4 linked regions of the Homo sapiens genome follow. The protein of the gene in region 4 purifies or fractionates together with the protein of the main gene of each other region. This does not show direct contact. Each region holds a gene or a part of one and is shown on either strand. Other genes may lie near its edges.

What was found. The genes of interacting proteins can lie anywhere in the genome.
Region 1: the proteins of FGFR1OP2 (region 4) and MTCH2 purify together in Homo sapiens (co-immunoprecipitation; one large-scale study listed by IntAct). This does not show direct contact.
Region 2: the proteins of FGFR1OP2 (region 4) and STRIP1 purify together in Homo sapiens (affinity purification with mass spectrometry; 3 studies listed by BioGRID and IntAct, with this or other methods). This does not show direct contact.
Region 3: the proteins of FGFR1OP2 (region 4) and MRRF purify together in Homo sapiens (affinity purification with mass spectrometry; one large-scale study listed by BioGRID and IntAct). This does not show direct contact.

Annotation. Positions count from the first base shown.
Region 1 is NC_000011.10:47,632,509-47,637,222, reverse strand, and holds part of MTCH2 (mitochondrial carrier homolog 2), read left to right. Parts: intron 1-1,651; coding exon 1,652-1,678; intron 1,679-2,488; coding exon 2,489-2,551; intron 2,552-4,714. UniProt on the Homo sapiens protein: Protein insertase that mediates insertion of transmembrane proteins into the mitochondrial outer membrane. Catalyzes insertion of proteins with alpha-helical transmembrane regions, such as signal-anchored, tail-anchored and multi-pass membrane proteins.
Region 2 is NC_000001.11:110,039,961-110,044,674, forward strand, and holds part of STRIP1 (striatin-interacting protein 1), read left to right. Parts: intron 1-674; coding exon 675-743; intron 744-1,575; coding exon 1,576-1,682; intron 1,683-1,773; coding exon 1,774-1,901; intron 1,902-3,127; coding exon 3,128-3,310; intron 3,311-3,678; coding exon 3,679-3,896; intron 3,897-4,358; coding exon of another isoform or gene 4,359-4,377; exon of another isoform or gene 4,378-4,714. UniProt on the Homo sapiens protein: Plays a role in the regulation of cell morphology and cytoskeletal organization. Required in the cortical actin filament dynamics and cell shape. Part of the striatin-interacting phosphatase and kinase (STRIPAK) complexes.
Region 3 is NC_000009.12:122,273,719-122,278,432, forward strand, and holds part of MRRF (ribosome-recycling factor, mitochondrial isoform 1 precursor), read left to right. Parts: intron 1-4,714. UniProt on the Homo sapiens protein: Responsible for the disassembly of ribosomes from messenger RNA at the termination of mitochondrial protein biosynthesis. Acts in collaboration with GFM2. Promotes mitochondrial ribosome recycling by dissolution of intersubunit contacts.
Region 4 is NC_000012.12:26,961,495-26,966,169, forward strand, and holds part of FGFR1OP2 (FGFR1 oncogene partner 2), read left to right. Parts: intron 1-1,847; coding exon 1,848-1,961; intron 1,962-3,101; coding exon 3,102-3,239; 3' UTR 3,240-4,675. UniProt on the Homo sapiens protein: May be involved in wound healing pathway.

The sequences.
Region 1 (4,714 bases), on a different chromosome or scaffold from region 4:
AGGTCAGCAGTTTGAGACCAGCCTGGCCAACATGGTGAAACACTGTCTCTACTAAAAATACAGATGTTAGCCAGGCGTGGTGGTGGGCGCATGTAATCCCAGCTACTCAGGAGGCTGAGGCAGGAGAATCGCTTGAATCTGGGAGGTAGAGGTTGTAGTGAGCTGAGATTGAACCATTGCACTCCAGCAGTGAGCCGAGATTGCACCATTGCACTCCAGCTGGGTGACAAGAGTGAAACTCCATCTAAAAAAAAAAAAAAACAGAGTTCTTGAATTTTCTTTTTTGTTGTTGTTCTTATTTTGTAATTATTTCTTTAAATTTATTATTATTTTTTTAGAGACAAAGTCTCACTATGTTGCCCAGTCTGGTCTTGAATTCCTGGGCTCAAGCAGTCCTCCCTCTTCGGCCTTCCAAAGTGTTGGGATTACAGGCGTGAGTCACTGCGCATGTTCCCTTTTCGTTTTTTGGGTTTTTTTGTTGTTTTTTTTTGAGACAGAGTTTCACTCTTGTTGCCCAGGCTGGAGTGCAATGGCATGGTCTCGGCTCACTGCAGCTTCCACCTACCGGGTTCAAGCAATTCTCCTGCCCCAGCTTCCCACGTAGCTGGGATTACAGGCACCTACCACCACGCCCAGCTAATTTTTGTATTTTTAGTAGAGAGGGGGTTTCGCCATGTCAGCCAGGCTGTTCTCAAACTCCTGACGTCAGGTGATCCGCCTGCCTCAGCCACGCAAAGTGCTGGGATTACAGGCGTGAGGCACCATGCCCGGCCCCTTTTCTTTTTTTCTGAGATGGAGTCTTGCTCTGTTGCCCAGGCTGGAGTGCAGTGATGTGATCTCAGCTCACTGCAGTCTTTACCCCCCGGGTTCAAGCAATTCTCCTGTCTCAGCTTCCCAAGTAGCTGGGATTACAGGCGCCCGCCACCAAGCCCAGCTAATTTTTGTACTTTTAGTAGAGATGGAGTTTCACCACGTAGGCCAGGCTGGTCTCAAATTCCTAACCTCAGGTGATCCACCTGCCTTGGCCTCCCAAAGTGCTGAGATTATAGGCGTGAGCTACCGCACCCAGCCTTCCCTTTTCTTTTTTTTTTTCTTGAGACGGACTCTTGCTCTGTCACCTGGGCTGCAGTGCAGTGGCGTGATCTTGGCTCACTGCAACCTCTGCCTCCTGGGTTCAAGTGATTCTCCTGCCCCAGCCTCCCTAAGAGCTGGGATTAAAAGCGTGCGCCCCAATGCTCCGCTAATTTTTGTATTTTTAGTAGAGATGGGGTTTCACCATGTTGGCCAGGCTAGACTTGAACTCCTGACCTCAGGTGATCTGCCCACCTCGGCCTCCTAAAGTGCTGGGATTACAGGCATGAGCAACCACACCTGTCCCCTTTTCTTTTTTCAAAGAAGAGTTTTCATGACCATTTGCTTTTCTTCCAACTGACCAATATGTTAAACTTAGCAACAAGTTTATCTTGGAGATCCATATTTCCAGTTGATTAATGAGTAGAAGTTAACTGAAGATTTGCAGCTTAAAAAAAAAAACAAAAACTTTAAAAAAAACTTCAGCTAATTTACTTTCTGTCAGTAGAGTTTTCATTTTATGTCTTCTTTCACATGACACTGTAATAACCCTAATCATCCTTTTTCTTTTTTTCTATAGCATTACCAGGAGAGTGACAAGGGTGAGGTATGTTGGAGCTGATTTCTAAGCATGAGGGCCTTTCCCTTGCAAGTTGTTACTGCTTTTGGGGCCTCTTTTGGAGAAAAGCCAAGTAGTCAGTCTCCTATTCATCTCAGTGAGTGTTGTCCTATGGGGTGGCCACCAGTTTGGACAGTTCTGTTTGAAACCATCAGGATGGCTGGGCATGGTGGCTCATGCCTGTAATCCTAGCAGTTTCGGAGGCCAAGGTGGGAGGATCACTTGCATCTAAGAGTTTGAGACCAGCCTGGGCAACATAGACCCCTTCTCTACAGAAAATCAAAGATTAGCGGGGCCTGGTGGCACATACCTCTGTATCTCAGCTACATGGGAGGTTGAGGTGAGAGGATCACTTGAGTCCAGGACGTCAAGACTGCAGTGATCCATGATCACATCACTGCACTCCGCGTGAGTGACAGAGCGAGACCCTATCTCAAAAGAAATAAAAACCGTCAAGATCGGCCGCCCATGGTGGCTCATGCCTGTAATCCCAGCACTTTGGGAGGCCGAGGCAGGTGGAGATCACGAGGTCAGGAAATCGAGACCATCCTGGCTAACACGGTGAAACCCCGTCTCTACTAAAAATACAAAAATTAGCAGGGCGTGGTGGCGAGCACCTGTAATCCTAGCTACTTGGGAGGCTGAGGCAGGAGAAGCACTTGTACCCAGGCGGTGGAGCTTGCAGTGAGCCGAGATTGTGCCACTGCACTCCAGCCTGGGCGACAGAGCGAGACTCTGTCTCAAAAAAAAAAAAAAAAAAAAATCAAGATCTCTATTTTCTTTGATTTTGATTTCCAGGAGTTAGGACCTGGAAATGTACAGAAAGAAGTCTCATCTTCCTTTGACCACGTTATCAAGGAGGTAAGAGATGAATTACATCCTGTGCTGTTTGCCCAGATCAAACTGTGGTGTTGCAACTATGGAATCAGAATCATCAGGCCTGTGTGTTCAGTGTCTGTTCCCAAATGAAATTAAACCTTCAAATTAATTTGGGCTTTACTACATGTATAACATTAAAAAGAGAGAGGATCAGTGCTTGCTGTTCAGAATAGATGCATTTCAAGAAAACTCATTTTGCCCACACATTCCGTCTTTAGAATACTGAAAGTCTTCTAATAGTGTTGAAAACCTCAGGAATAAAAGTGTTAAAATAGGCCAGGTGTGGTGGCTCACGCCTGTAATCCCAGCACTTTGGGAGGCCAAGGCAGGAAGATCACTTGACCCCAGGAGTTAGAGACCAGCCTATGCAACATAGTGAGACTTCCTCTCTACAAAAAAAATAGAAAAATTAGCTAGGTGTGTGGTGGCACATATCTGTAGTCCCAGGTACTCGAGAGGCTGCGGTGAGAAGATGACTTAAGCCCAGGAAGTTGAGGCTGCAGTGAGCTATGATTGTGCCACCATACTCCAGCCTGTGTGATAGAGCAAGACCTTGTCTTTAGAAAAAAGTATTAAAATAGCGACCAGGCCCTTTGTATGTTGGATAGTATCTATGCAGAAAGGCTCTTTTGACATTTTTCTGACTCTGAAAAGTTCCTCATCACCCATTTCCCACCCCCATATGCTGCCATAGGTGTTTCTGTGCCTGGCTTTCAGAACTATTCTCTTATTACTTAAGTCTTCACATTGTCTTAATTGTCATTAATGAAGTCACAATTATCCAGGAAATGCAGCCATCCAAAATACATATTCCAAAGGCTGGGCGCAGTGGCTCATGCCTGTAATCCCAGCACTTTGAGAGGCCGAGGCGGGCGGATCACCTGAGGTTGGGAGTTGGAGACCAGCCTGACCAACATGGAGAAACCCCGTCTCTACTAAAAATACAAAAATTAGCCAGGCATGGTGGCGCATGTCTGTAATCCCAGCTACTTGGGGGGCTGAGGCAGGAGAATGGCTTGAACCCGGGAGGCAGAGGTTGTAATGAGCCAAGATTGCACCATTGCACTCTAGCCTGGGCCACAGGAGTGAGACTCCATCTCAAGAAAAAAAAAAAAAAAAAAAAAAAATATATATATATATATATATATTCCAAAACAAACATTACTAAAGGTCTGGAAACCAGATAAATTAGCTCTATTTTCTGTAAATTTTCATGAAATTAGTTTGCTTAAAAGCAGGGATACGGCCGGGCGTGGTGGCTTACACCTGTAATCCCAACACCTTGGGAGGCCGAGGCGGGCAGATCACGAAGTCAGGAGATTGAGACCACCCTGGCTAACACGGTGAAACCCCGTCTCTACGAAAAATACAAAAAAATTAGCTGGGCATGGTGGCAGGCGCCTGTAGTCCCAGCTACTCGGGAGGCTGAGGCAAGAGCATGGCGTGAACCTGGGAGGTGGAGCTTGCAGTGAGCCAAGACTGCGCCACTGCACTCCAGCCTGGGAGACAGCGAGACTCCCTCTCAAAAAAAAAAAAAAAGCAGGGATACATGTATTACTATGCAATTAGTATTTTCCTTAGTTTGCCCATCCAGTCCCATAGGATCTTATGCCCTTGGAGAAGGGGTGAGGGCTGTCTTAAAACTCAGTGACTAGGCCGGGTGTGGTGGCTCACACCTATAATCCCAGCACTTTGGGAGGCTGAGGCGGGCAGATCACGAGGTCAGGCATTCAAAACCAGCTTGGCCAACATGGCGAAATCCCATCTCTACTAAAAATACAAAAAAAATTAACTGGGCATGGTGGTGTGTGCCTGTAATCCCAGCTACTCAGGAGGCTGAGGCGGGAGAATCACTTGAACCTGGGAGGTGGAGGTTGCAGCAAGCTGAGATCGCACCACTGCACTCCAGCCCGGGCAACAGAGCAAGACTCTGTCTCAAAAAAAAAGAAAAGAAAAAACTCAGTGACCATAAAGATACTGTTTAAATGCAAAAGCCGGCCAGGCACGGTGGCTCATGCCTGTAATCCCAGCAGTTTGGGAGGCCGAGGCGGGCGGATCATGAGGTCAGGAGATCGAGACCATCCTGGCTAACACGGTGAAACCGTCTCTACTAAAAAATACAAAGAAAAAAAATTAGCCGGGCAT
Region 2 (4,714 bases), on a different chromosome or scaffold from region 4:
TAACACCATCAATGATAAAGCTAAGACAGCTCATTGAGTGCCTGTGTGTCCCGGGCATTGTTCTCAGAATATTACATGTGCTAATTCATGTTAAGGATATAGGTACTACTGTCATCCCCATTTTACAGATGAGGAAACTAAGGCGCAGTTAGAGCCAGGATTCAAACCGTGGCAGTCCAGTGCATGGCTGGGTTTTTTGTTTTTGTTTTTGTGTTTTTTTTGTTTTTGTTTTTGTTTTTGAGAGAGAGTCTTGTTCTGTTGCCCAGGCTGGAGTGATATGGCGTGAACTTGGCTCATTGCAACCTCCACCTCCCGGCTTCAAGCTATTCTCCTGCCTCAGCCTTCTGAGTAGCTGGGTTTACAGGTGCCTGCCACCACACCCAGCTAATTTTTGTATTTTTAGTAGAGATGGGGTTTCGCCATGTTGGCCAGGCTGGTCTCAAACTCTTGACCTCAGGTGATCCACCCGCCTCGGCCTCCCGAAGTACTGGGATTACAGGCATGAGCCACCATGCCCAGCCATGGTCTGGTTTCTTAACCACCGTGTCCTGTGGCCTCTTGTGCAGTCCAAGCACGTATCACAGCATTTTGTTTCCCCATTGGTCAGTACTTGTCAGGGACATCACTTATCTTCCTTCTTGGAGGAAGATGCTGACTCTCAAAATCTCCTGCAGCAACAGTGCCGCCTGCAGCAGTGCTGTGAGGAAGCCTGCCATCTCCCTGGCTGACAGCACAGACCTCAGGTGAGGCGAGCAGCAAGCCTGGGCTCCTGAGCGTTAGTCAGAGATGAGATCAGAGCAGGGTGTGGGAGGCTGTCTGTGGGTGTCATTGCTGTGTGTGCTTCTGTACACATCATCTGCATGTGTGATGGGCTCAGTGTGAATGATTAGTAGGAACTGCTGAGGGCTCGTCCTAGGTGGGACTCTGGGTTGAGACTCCCAAAGGCAATCCAGGGTCAAGTGACTTACTAGAGCCACAGCTAAGTGTGGCCTCCTACTCACACTGTTACTCAGGACCTGGTCGTGGGGTATTTTGTATTTGGATGAAACACTTGATGGTGTTCCCTGGACTCCCACCTTCTTGTGTACACAGCTTGATGCTCATCTTCATTGGGTTAGACCTGACAGCTTCCTAATGTTTCATGGCTGCCCAGGAGCTCACAGCAACTGCTGACCACCAAGATCACCCCTCAGTTTTTGAGGGTTGAAATCTGGCTCTTTTTATGAATTTGGAAGTTTTTAGACTAGGTGGTTGTAGTGTTGCCTCCCGGGTGTTAGGATCCCTGGGCGTCACCTCTCAGCTCCTGCTTTCCATTTCCTCATCATAAACCCTGTTTTTGTTCTCACTGTGACCCTGTTCTGCTTTGACCCTACAGCTCGCTACCACCTCTGTGGTTTTTTTCTTTTCAGGAAGCTTAGGGTGGTAAATGCTTTTGGCCATTCTTGTTCATACTCATTTATTCAGATACCATTTATTAATAGTAAGCCCCTGCTTTGTGTAAGCACTTTGTTAGACACTAGGGTGCTCCTTTGACCCCCCCATCCCACTCCATTGTGAGCTGGCTCTTGTCCTCAGGGTCCTGCTCAACATCATGTACCTGATAGTGGAGACCGTTCATCAGGAGTGTGAGGGTGACAAGGCTGAGTGGAGGACCATGCGGCAGACCTTCAGAGCCGAGCTGGGTAGGACCCTGGGGATCCTCTCTAGAGGCCCTGCCTGGAAGCTGAGGCGGAAGGCTTTGGGAGGGTCCTGATACCTTTGTGTCACCTCCAGGCTCCCCGCTGTACAACAATGAGCCATTTGCCATCATGCTGTTTGGGATGGTGACCAAATTTTGCAGTGGTCACGCCCCTCACTTTCCCATGAAGAAAGTTCTCTTGCTGCTCTGGAAGACAGTATTGGTGAGCACCTCCTTGGAGGAGGAGAACGGTGCTATGGGATGGGCAGTAGGGAGACTGTTCCTTGAATATCCTTTTGAATATTGAATTATGTGACTGTAAAACTGCTTTGGTAAAAAAAATTATTTAAAAAGCTGCTAAAAGGAGATGACAAAAGAAGGGCCACTATTGTCCCATTGCAGCCAACGAGGACATAGGCCTTGAGTCAGAGTAGGCTGTTGGCTCTCTGACCCCGGAAGCTGTTTTCTGTCATAGAACAGCTCTCCCCCAGACAAGTTGCCTCTCAGCAAGCAGCTCTGGACCTGGAGTTTGTAAAGGGATTTGAGGCAAAGTTACAGCTGATGTAATTGGGGCCCTGGTTGGATATCACTTAAAGGGGCAAGAGTGAGCCCTGAGCCAGCCTCCATTTTCTTCAGGGTATGGTGTCAGCCCGACTCTGTGTCTAGGTAGGGAGGGACTGGGTGCCAGAGTGGGCCGTCCAGCACACTGGGCTTGGAGCGTTGTTAGCAGCCAGGCCATGCCAGGAGGCCTTCCCAGGAGGAGTGACATGGGGAGGCGGTGGAGGTGAGTTGGGCCTCTGCTACACTGGGGCTCATCCTTCCTTTCAGAATGGGTCAACTCTGGAGCCAGGGCTCAGTAAGTATAGGATTTCTTAAAAGTCATTGACACATTTTATCTTGGCCACACATTCTGTTCTTCATAAAGCCTTGCTAAGGCTAGAGAGGAAAGCTGAATTGCTCAGAAACAGTAAAACTAAGCAGTCTAAAGCTGGATGTTGCTGGCGTTTCTGCTTCTTGGGAGATGTTTAGATGAAGCTTTTTTTCTTCTTCTAAAGTTGAGCAACCAACAGTATTTCTAATTTGACTTTGAAAGACTTGCATGTACAACTTGTGAAACATGAGTCTCACCAACTTTTCTAGGAACTTGCAGGGTTAGGCTCTTTGCTTCTTTTTAAATTGAAGAGTATGTCATAGGTGCAGAGTTAGTGTATCTGCACTAGGGTCAGTCAGCCTGCATCTCCACTCTTTCCTTGTTCCTTTTTCTCCTTTCCCTTGCGGATGTCACGGAATTCTCCTTGGGAGTGGCTTCAGTCCATTGTTCAGGAGTTGCCTGGGTCTCTATAAAGACATGGGTCATGATGTCATGAATGTTTCTGAGCCTGACACAATGGTCAGGGGCCAGCCTGTGGACACATTGACCCTGGCTCTGCTTCCCTGTCTGTGATGCAGTGCACGCTAGGCGGCTTTGAGGAGCTGCAGAGCATGAAGGCTGAGAAGCGCAGCATCCTGGGCCTCCCCCCGCTTCCTGAGGACAGCATCAAAGTGATTCGCAACATGAGAGCAGCCTCTCCACCAGCATCTGCTTCAGACTTGATTGAGCAGCAGCAGAAACGGGGCCGCCGAGAGCACAAGGTGAGGACGACAGAGGTCCCTGTGACTCCTGAGGGCCCTCAAGGTGCATGCTTGCAGCAGCACAGTCCTTGGAGGAGCAGGGCTGCTGGAAATGATCTCTGATCAGCCAGTCAGAATCATGCCTCCACAGCGAGGATACTTTGTCCCCAGCTCTGGTCCAGTGTATGGTGAGTGCTCAGCACGTGGTGCTTTTGAGGGACTGGAGCAAGAAGTAGTTGATGGTTTGGCCCCCGTCTTGACTCCCACTGTGGTTTTTCCACTGTTCTTGCCTCTACTGGACACCTGTATGTGCTGTGTCTCCTCTGGCTGCACTTCCCTGGTCTGCGTCCTCAGTTGGCTCTTGTCTCATCTCCCTTCCCTGGTTTCAGGCTCTGATAAAGCAGGACAACCTAGATGCCTTCAACGAGCGGGATCCCTACAAGGCTGATGACTCTCGAGAAGAGGAAGAGGAGAATGATGATGACAACAGTCTGGAGGGGGAGACGTTTCCCCTGGAACGGGATGAAGTGATGCCTCCCCCGCTACAGCACCCACAGACTGACAGGCTGACTTGCCCCAAAGGGCTCCCGTGGGCTCCCAAGGTCAGGTGAGTCTCAGACCTCCAGAGCACTCATAGTTCCTGAGGCAGAGCCCTCACACCCTCAGGCCTGCCACCTGGCCTGTGTCACCATGTGTGGTCCTCTGCAGGGCAGGCTGACCGTGGCTCTGGGATGAGGCTCTCTTAAAGCACCCTGTGCTGTCCTGAGGGTCTCAGGGAGGCCGGCCTTGCTGGTCTCACACAACATGGCCCTCATGTGGCTACTGAGGCAGTAATTGGAGTTAGCTCTTGGTTAGATGTGCTAGTGAAGGGGGATAGGAAACAAATAAAAACAAAAGCATTTAAGCAAACATGTCTCCACCCATCCTGGGGTTGTGTATGGTTTTTAACAAAAATGATAGATTAAGGAAGAGTTTCTTTAGAGCCATAATGAAAATGTTTGAGATATATGTGGGTAAATCGATGGATGGGACGGTACCTGGAGATATATAAATGGTGTCTGTTTGATAGGCAGCAGCTTAAGAAATAGATGAACATGTGAGAGGATATAGAAGTCGCTTTCTTGATCCAGGTAAAGCCTCAGTTTTCAGTGATCTGTGAAGGGAATGCAAAACAGATCATCAGAAAATGCAAGGTATGCTGATTGTTTGGGATAGGAAAAGTGAGCTATATGAAAAATCAGTAGCCTATAGCTTTAATTGTTTAAAAGTTTTAATATTTAAGAAAGTCTGTTGACAAACTTGTTCATACTATCTGAATAAAGCATGTTTTTAAGTTTGATATATCCCTTTAATTTTATGAATAAACTAGTTAACATGTATTTCCAGGTTACTGATCCAGCAAAATTATAAGAAACATTAAAATTC
Region 3 (4,714 bases), on a different chromosome or scaffold from region 4:
CTGTAAGGATAGATAACCCACTATATTGACTTTAACACCACAGATTAGTTTTGTCCTTTGTGACGTCAGTATGGATTTTGTGTCTGACTTCTGTGGTAATAATCTATTTGTGAGATATGTCCATGTTGTGCACATAATGGTTGTTTGTGCATTTTTATTTTTTTAATGATATTCTACTGAAAGTATATACCACAATTTAATATCCATCCTACAGTTAACAGACATTTGGGTTGTTTCCAGTTTTGAGCTAAAACAAATAATGCTAGTATAAGCATTCTTGTACATGTGTTGTGGTGCACATATGTCCCTTTCCATTCTTCTCCCCTCCTGTCCTATTGCCCTCCCTTCTCCTCTCCTCCCCTCACTGTCATTGGATTGGCTAGGAACTCTAGTGTAATTTGAATAAATGTGACTGGTGATAATAGGCATCTTTGTTTTAGTCCTGACTTTATAGGAAACACTTCTTATATGTTAACCTTAAGAGTTATGTATGTGGAGAAATCATATTACCTGACTTCAAATTATACCACAGAGCTATAGTAACCAAAACAGCATGGTATGGGCATAAAAACAGACACATAGACTGTGTTAGTCTGTTCTCATGCTGCTATGAAGAAAAACCTGAGACTGGGTAATTTATAAAGGAAAAAGATTTAGGCCAGGCACGATGGCTCACGTCTGTAATCCCAGGACTTTGGGAGGCCAAGGTGGGTGGATCACTTGAGGTCAGTAGTTGGAGACCTGCCTGGCCAACATGGCAAAACCCGGCCCCTTGCGTGTTTGATAGAACTTGCCTGTAAAGTAATATGAATCTGGTGTGTGTGTGTGTGTGTGTGTGTGTGTGTGTGTGTGTGTGTAGGTAGACTTTAAATCATAGAATTGGTTCCTTTAATGATTATGAGACTGCTTAGATTTTTCTCTTGATTTAGTAAGTTATATATTTTAGGAAATTTTTCATTTTTTTGACCTTTCAAAGTTGTTGATATAAAGTTGTTCATAATAGTCTCTTATTAAGATTTCTACTATTTTTATAGTCATGTCCATTTTTTCTTTCTTAATATTATTTATCTGCATCTACTTTCTTCTTTTCTTAATTGTTCTTGACAGAAGTTATAAACCTTTTAAAAGAGTCTTTAATTTTTTGATCTCTCTTTTTTGCAATTTTATGATTTCTGTTCTTTATTATTTACTTTCTCCTGTGTACTTGTTCTGTTTCTATCCTCTGAGTTGGACAATTAGTTCATTAATTTTTGGTCTTTCCTGTTTTCTTTTTTTCTTTGAAAAATTTTATTATAAACATGATGCTTTGATATACATGCAGTGATATGGTTACATACATGCAAATTAACATATCCATTATCTTACATAGTTACCTCCTTTTTTTTTTTTTTGCGAAAGCACATAAAATCTGTCTTAGCAAAAAATCCAGAGTATAATACAATATTACTAACTATAGTCCTCCTATTGTACATTAGATCTCCAGACTTGTTCATCCTACATATCTACTACTTTGTATCCTTTGATTTATATCTCTCCATTTCCTCACCACCACCACCACCCCACCCCGCTGACCCCTGCTAAGTATTATTTTATTCTCTGTGTGTATTCATCTTTTTTGTAGATTCCGCATGTGGTTAGGCATGGTGGCTCATGCTCATAATTCCAGCACTTTGGGAGGCCGAGGCGGGTGGATCACTTGAGCCCAGGAGTTCAAGATCAGTCTGGGCAATGTGGTGAAACCTCTTCTCTACAAAAAAAATACAAAAATTAGCCAGGCATGGTGGCATGCGCCTGTAGTCCCAGCTATTCAGGATGCTGAGATGGGAGAATCACCAGAGCCCAGGGAGGTTGAGGCCTGTAGTGAGCTGAGATCGCACCACTGCACTCCAGTCTGGGTGACAGAGTGAGGCCCTGTCTAAAATACAAACAAGCAAACCCCAACCCTGAGATTCTGCATACAAGTATAATCATGCAGTATTTTTCTGTGTGTGGCTTATTTTGCTTAGTGTAATGTCCTCCGGGTTCATCCATGGCAAATGGCAAGGTCTCGTTTTTTAAGGTTGAATAATATGCCACTTTATACACAAACACACACACCCATACATGCACCCACATCATTTCTCTATCCACAGACACTTTGGTTGTTTTCATATCTTACCATTGTGCATAATACTTTCTTCTTTATTTTTATTTCTTATTGTTTTTTTGAGATGGAGTCTCCCTCTGTCACCCAGACTGGAGTGCAGTGGCATGATCTCAGCTCACTGCAGCCTTGTCCTCCTGGGTTCAAGCAATTCTCCTGCCTCAGCCTCCCAAGTAGCTGGGACTATAGGCACTTGCCACCACGCCCAGCTAATTTTTGTATTTTTTTTTTTAGTAGAGATGGGATTTCGCCATGTTGGCCAGGCTGGTCTCGAACTTTTGACCTTGGGTGATCCGCCCACCTTGGGCTCCCAAAGTGCTGGAATTACAGGCATGAGTCACCACGCCCAGCCTGTTTTGTTTTGTTTTGTTTTTAAAGTATTAAGGTTAGAAGTTTCTGTCTAAATACAACTTTAAATGCTTCCTATAAGGTTGTTTATTTATTTTAGAGATAAGGTCTTGCTTTGTTGCCTAGGCTGGAGTGCAGTGGCACAATCATACCTCACTGTAACCTTGAACTCCTGGGCTCAAGTGATCCTCTCGCCTTGGCCTTCCAGAGCGCTGGGATCACAGGTGTTGAGCCATCGTGTCTGACTTGAGTTTTTGACATTGAATATTTTTATTATGGTCATTTCTCAATATTTAAACATTTCCATTATGCATTTCTTTATAGCCCATGAGTGTTTATTAAGAAGTGTTTAAAGTTTTTCAAACAAATGGTTGTTTTGGGGTTAGCTTAATTCTACTCTGTTCAGAAGGCATGTTCTATATGATATAGATTCTTTTATTTTTGTTGAGATTTGATTTGTGTGTAAAACATGGTTGTTTCATAGAAGGTCCAAGTGTGCTTGAGAATAATGTGTATTCTTTTTTTCTTGGGTGTATTGTATTAGATCAAATTGACTAATTTTATTGATCAACTTTTCTGTTTTTTTATTTGCTTACTTATCGGTTATCAAGGAAGGTATATTGAACTCTCCTAGTATGCTTGTAGATTGATCAGTTTCTCCTTTTTTGTTGTTTTTTGAGACGGGGTCTTGCCCAGGCTGTAGTGCAGCAGTGCAATCACAGCCCACTGCAACCTTAATCTTCTGGGCTCAACTGATTCTCCTACCTCAGCCTCCCAAGTAGCTGGGACTACAGGCACGCACGGCCATGCCTGGTAATTTTTGTATTTTTTGTAGGGACTGGGTTTTGCAATGTTTCCCAGACTGGTCTTGAACTGCTGGGATCAAGCAATCTGCCCACCTCAGCCCCACAAAGTGCTGGGATTACAAGTGTAAGTCACTGCACCCAGCCAGTTTCTTCTTTTAATTGTATTAATTTTGAGGCTATCTTATTGATATATTTAATCTTAGAATTGTTATATATCTTTCTGGTGAATTGTTTCTATTATCATTTTGAAGTTGTCTTCATGATTTCCAATAGTGAATTTTGTCTTAAAATCTTTTTTGTTTGATGATAATGTAGCTACACCAGCCTTCTTTTGACTGATGTTTGCCAGGCTTATAATTTTTCCATCCCTATACATCAAACTTTCTGTGATCTTTTATAATTTTTAAAAACCGTTATGTTATATTCAGCTAGATTTTTAAAAATCTTACTGAGAATCTCCCACTTTTAACTTGTCATTTTGATCCATTTATATTTATTGTAGTCACTGCATATTTGTGTTATTATTTTATTTTGTACTTTCTTTCTTTTTTTTGAGACAGAGTCTCACTCTGTCGTCCAGGCTGGAATGCAGTGGTGCAGTGTCGGCTCACCGCAACCTCCGCCTCTCAGGTTCAAGTGATGCTTGTGCCTCAGCCTCCCGAGTAGCTGGGACTACAGGCATACGCCACCATGCCCAGCTAATTTTTTGTATTTTTAGTAGAGATGGTGTTTTGCCTTGTTGGCTAGGCTGATCTCAAACTCCTGGCCTCAGGTGATCCGCCCGCCTTGGCTTGCCAAAGTGCTAGGATTACAGGCATGAGCCACCACGCCTGGCCTTATTTTGGACTTTCTTTATATCATGTTTTTTCCTTTTTTCTTTTTTTTAAATGCATATTTAAAAATTTTTTTTATTGATACATATTTGTACATACTTATGGGGTATATGTGATGTTTTGTTACATGCATAAATGATTTAAGTTAGGGTATATGGGGTATCCAGCATCTCAAGCTTTTATCATTTTTATGTGTTGGGAACATTTAAAGTTCTTTTAGCTGTGTTGAAATATTCCTTTTTTTCCTTTTTTCTTCTTCTTTTCCCATTAGATTAAATTTCTTTATCCCTCTCTCTCTCTTTTTTAAATTCTGCTGATTTGGAAGATATACTTTTAATTTATTATTGTTTTGATGGTTACCCTTAACTAATTTTTTAACCTTTTTATAGAAATAAAAAAACCCTGTAGGAAAGTGCAGCTGTCATAAATTTCACAAGCTGAAATCACTTACAGCACCCAGATAAAAAAAACAGAACATTCTTAGCATGTCAAAAGTCCCCTTTGTGCTTCTTTCTAGTAAGTACTACCCTTGACCCTTTGCAGATAACTATTATTCTGACTTCTAGTAGCATGGATTCGTTTTC
Region 4 (4,675 bases):
GGGAGGCTGAGGTGGGTGGATCACCTGACGTCAGGAATTGGAGACCAGCCTGGCCAACATGGTGAAACCCCATCTCTACTAAAAATACAAAAAGTTAGCCAGGCGTGATAGCGGGTGCCTGTAATCCCAGCTGCTCGGGAGGCTAAAGCAAGAGAATTGTTTGAACCTGGGAGTGGGAGGTTGCAGTGAGCCGAGGTCGTGCCATTGCACTCCAGCCTGGCCAACAAGAGCGAGACTCTGTCTAAAAAAAAAGAAATGCTTGCTTTCTGTGTAGTTTTTTAACTTAGGTCAGTGCCATAGGACTGACCAAATCATAAATTGAGGATGCTGTTGGTATTCAAAGTTTTTACTCATTACCCTTACTCAGTTTGCAGCTGCAATGATCTGTACTTAACCTGCTTTTACATATTATGCTTCCTTGACAATGGGAGGAATTTTAATGGTTAACTTGCAGAATATGACAGATACTTGTCTTAATATCATTCTTCCTACCATAATCTAATTCAAAACTATCCAGTAGAACTTTCTGAAATGATTGGAATGTTTTTTATCTGTGCTGTCCAGTGTGGAAGCCAGTAGCCACATGTGGCTGTTGAGCACTTGCAGTGTCACTAATGCGTTTGAGGGACTGAATTGTTAATTTTTAAAAATGTATTGATTTTAATTAAGTTTAACATTGTTTTGGACAGCACAGATTAGCCTTTTAGAGTACCTTCTTGCTGAGTACTAGCAGTGTATAGGTTTCCCCATGAAAAGGACCTACATTTTTGTTGGTTAAGAGGTTATTAAATGTGCTTTGCCAAAGATACTACCTTGTCATTTCTTCCAGCTTATTAGTTCCGTGGGTTTCTTGGAGTACTGTTAAATCCTTTTTACAAATATATATATACACAACTACTGAAGAGACTGTTTATTTGGGGAGTTATTCACTTTTATATTTAAGTCTTAGGCTTAATATGATAAAATACCTCTCAGTTGCTGTGAATAATGGTCTATAGAAGCTGTTCATTGAGAAAATGATTATTCTCGAGTTTCTGTTGATTTTAAACCTTTTTTGTCTGTCTCTTTCACTAGACTGTAAGCTTCTTCAGATCAGGGGACATGTCTTGACAGTCTTTGTATTCCTGTTGTTTAGCATAGTACTGGCACATCATAGGTGTGCAAGATAAGAAAATGAGATTGGAAGAATTTATGCTACTTGCTGCGCCTAACAAATGTGGATGTCTGTATTATACTGATACTATATTTTCAATAGTTAGCAAAGAAGGCCATTTAATATTTTAATACTGAAAAGCAGAATTGTGCTCATTTTATTCAATACTTACCATATACCATACACTAGATAGTAGGTGGATGTAAAGATGCAGTTCCTGCTCTCAAAGAGGATTATGACCTAGAAAAGGTTACAGATTGGATTGAGATAACTTTATAGGCCTGAACAATACAGAAAAGATTTCTAAATCATTGAAGACTTCAGGGAGGAAAAGAGATTGAATGCGTCGGCAATTTTTATCATTCCCGTTACTTTGAACAATAGTGTATGTAAGTGCAAAAAAAAAGAAAAAGTTGCTGATCATTGTGGTGAGAGGAATGTAAAATATGAGTATTTTTCTTGCTGCTAGGTTTAGTTATATTGTGCTGCTTATTCTTAATTCTAGTCCTAACAAATTTGATTTCAAAAGCACATCTGTGGTCAACCAACTTCATTGTTAATATTTGTTTTATTCATATTAAGTGACAATGTAAGAATATTCATGTTAAGTGGTACTGCAGATTTTATAAAAAGGAGAGGATCCAAAAATAAAAAAGTATTTTGCTGATTTCCAACTCCCATCCCTCTTTTTCAGGAACTGCAAGCACATGTTGACCAGATAACTGAAATGGCAGCAGTAATGAGGAAAGCCATTGAAATTGACGAGCAACAGGGTTGCAAGGAACAAGAACGAATATTTCAACTTGAAGTAAGTTTTACATTGCAAATGTAGATGAAAACTGTCCATATAAAGATTTATGCCAGAAAATATATCCCATTTTTAAATATATATTTACTCTTCTTGGGTACTGGTAATGTTCTCCTGGATGCTGTCTATGTGGGCATATTATGCAAGACCATTTATGTGGTGATGCAAGAATCTAGGATTATTAGTAACTTACAATATACCAGTAATGTAGAAAATTGATGTTTCATTCTATATTGCTTATCTTATGAAGTGAATGTACTTCTTCAATTGAGTCATTTTTAAAATTTTGTTTATTCTATTAGAGATCATAGTGATACAGGGAAATTTTTTTTAATCCACAAATATTTAGGGGCACTCTTATTTTTCTGGGGATTCTAAAAACCTTTGTCATCTGTCCTTTATTTTATGACAGTGAAAGTACCAGTCTCTGAATAACTGAAATCAGTACAATAGACTTTTATGCCTTAAGAGCTTCATTTTGAAATCACGGCGGGGAACCTGCTTTAGACTACTAAAATTTAGAAAGTGAGACTGAAGATAAAGTGATAGAGAACAAATTATGAAAGGTTATTGTTAAATGTCTACAAATTTTTTTACAGTAACTAACCAAAAGGAGGCCAGAAAGCAAAGTTATTTACCAGTGCCAGATTTGGTCACTTACTTTCCTTCTTGAAAAATATCATCAGCTACCCCTACCCTGCTGCTCTCAAATGCCAATGAGCTAAACTTGTCCTACATTCCATGCTATCATGGAAAGTAATAAAAATACTAAAAATTACTAGGAGATTCTAGCCTATTCACTGGCTTTACGAGTTTATATAAAAATAAATCTAGATGTTATTTTCTTCATCTCTAATGTGATTGTAAAATAAGGCAATTTCTGAGCTTCTGTTTACAATTATAGCTGCTTAAGTAAGAAGGCTTTGCAGTGGTGGAAGATGTTGAACACGATTCCTAGCTGCATAAGTGTTCTTTAGATTCAAGTTGCCAACTGCATATATCATTGAGTAGATTAATGCCAATTACAGACCTTGCTTGTTTGTTATACCTTCATATGTTCAGTTTTTCCTAACATATGTTTGTGATGTTGTAGCTACCTTGTAGATAGTGACTGCATCTTTGTTTTTGCTTGCCTTTTAGCAAGAAAACAAAGGCTTGAGAGAGATCCTTCAAATAACTCGAGAATCATTTTTGAACCTAAGGAAAGATGATGCGTCGGAAAGTACTTCTTTGTCAGCATTAGTGACCAACAGTGATTTGAGTCTGAGGAAGAGCTGAAGAGTTTCTGAGTCTGTGAGCTTCTTACATGGCTCCAAATGGTCAAATAAGTGAATGAATGAATGGACAGAAAATTCAATCCTTTATTTTTTTCTCTGTAAATATGTACAGTGCACGGGCTATGAGATAGCAACAAAAAATGCATAGTTAATGGTCATAGACTTTATTCCAAAACATAATTGGAAAATAGAAACTGAGCCATTGCCAAATGGTAAAGAAATGAAAAGTTTTCACAGTGACTACTGAATATACCAAGAGCTTTTGGCAGTACTGCTGGCTTTCTGGGTGATTAATTAGGTAAACTTGAATATTCCCAGTAAATGTTTGAGAATGCATAAAATTATACCAATTTAAAAATATAAATTTTTGCCACTGTTTTGTGAACGGAGGATTTGTACGCTAAATTTCATCCTTATTTGGCGTCAAAGTTGATGCAAAGTTTATGTACCATGAGACTTCTAGTGATTGCCTACTTTCACATTTATTTAAATTTTTGTGAAAGAAAATACAGTTTTAAAGGCTATAGGAATGTGTTATATGTACCTTAAACAGATAATTTAATTTTAGCAATTTATCATAACTGATACTTAGCTAACAATTGTCCATAACTTGTTTAAGTGTAAGAAATACCATTTCAGGAATGAAAAAGAAGGAATACTACTTTCTAAGAAAGAAGATCTTATAATAGACATATTTAGTAGGTTAAACTACTCCTTTGAAAGAATAAGTTTTGGTTCAAAGTCAATAATGAAGACGAGATTTGTTTTTCTCTTCTCTGGCTGATTTTTAAGGATATTATGTAGTTCATTTAGTTAACAGAATTGAAATGTTTGATATGGCAAGATAGGTATGGTAATTTCAAAGTGAATTGGGAATTCCTCTGGCTCATAGAACCCTTTTTTTTTTCCTTTAAGTATTCTTGAGATACAAAAAAAAAAAGTAAATACAATTTCAAAAAAAAAGTTCCGGATCTGTTTTTAAGCTCCATCTGGTCCTCATAACCTGCAAGATTTTTCTTAAAACCTTTCAGCTGAAAGTGGGGGTAAAGGTGGAGTAATCTGTGGATTTGTTTCTGTTGTCTTTTAAAATGTCAAATATATAATATGTAATTTTTTTAAAAACCACCAGATACAGAAATGTGCTTTAACATCAGTTGAAACCTAAATTTTCTTATGTTGTGGTGATTGTATTAAAAAGGGATAAAAGAAGAGTGTCAAACATGGTTAAATATATTGTACTCATTTATGTTGAATACGTATTAAAATTAAGACAAATGGAAAATTATACTTTGAGTATATAATTTGTTAAATATTACTTTATATGGTAATTTTATGTATAATTTCATATATTGGTAAAATTCAAAACTACACTTGAGAATTTTTTTATCTTAAGTTTGGGGTGAATGGGGTGGATGAGACTGATTGAATAGAAAAGGG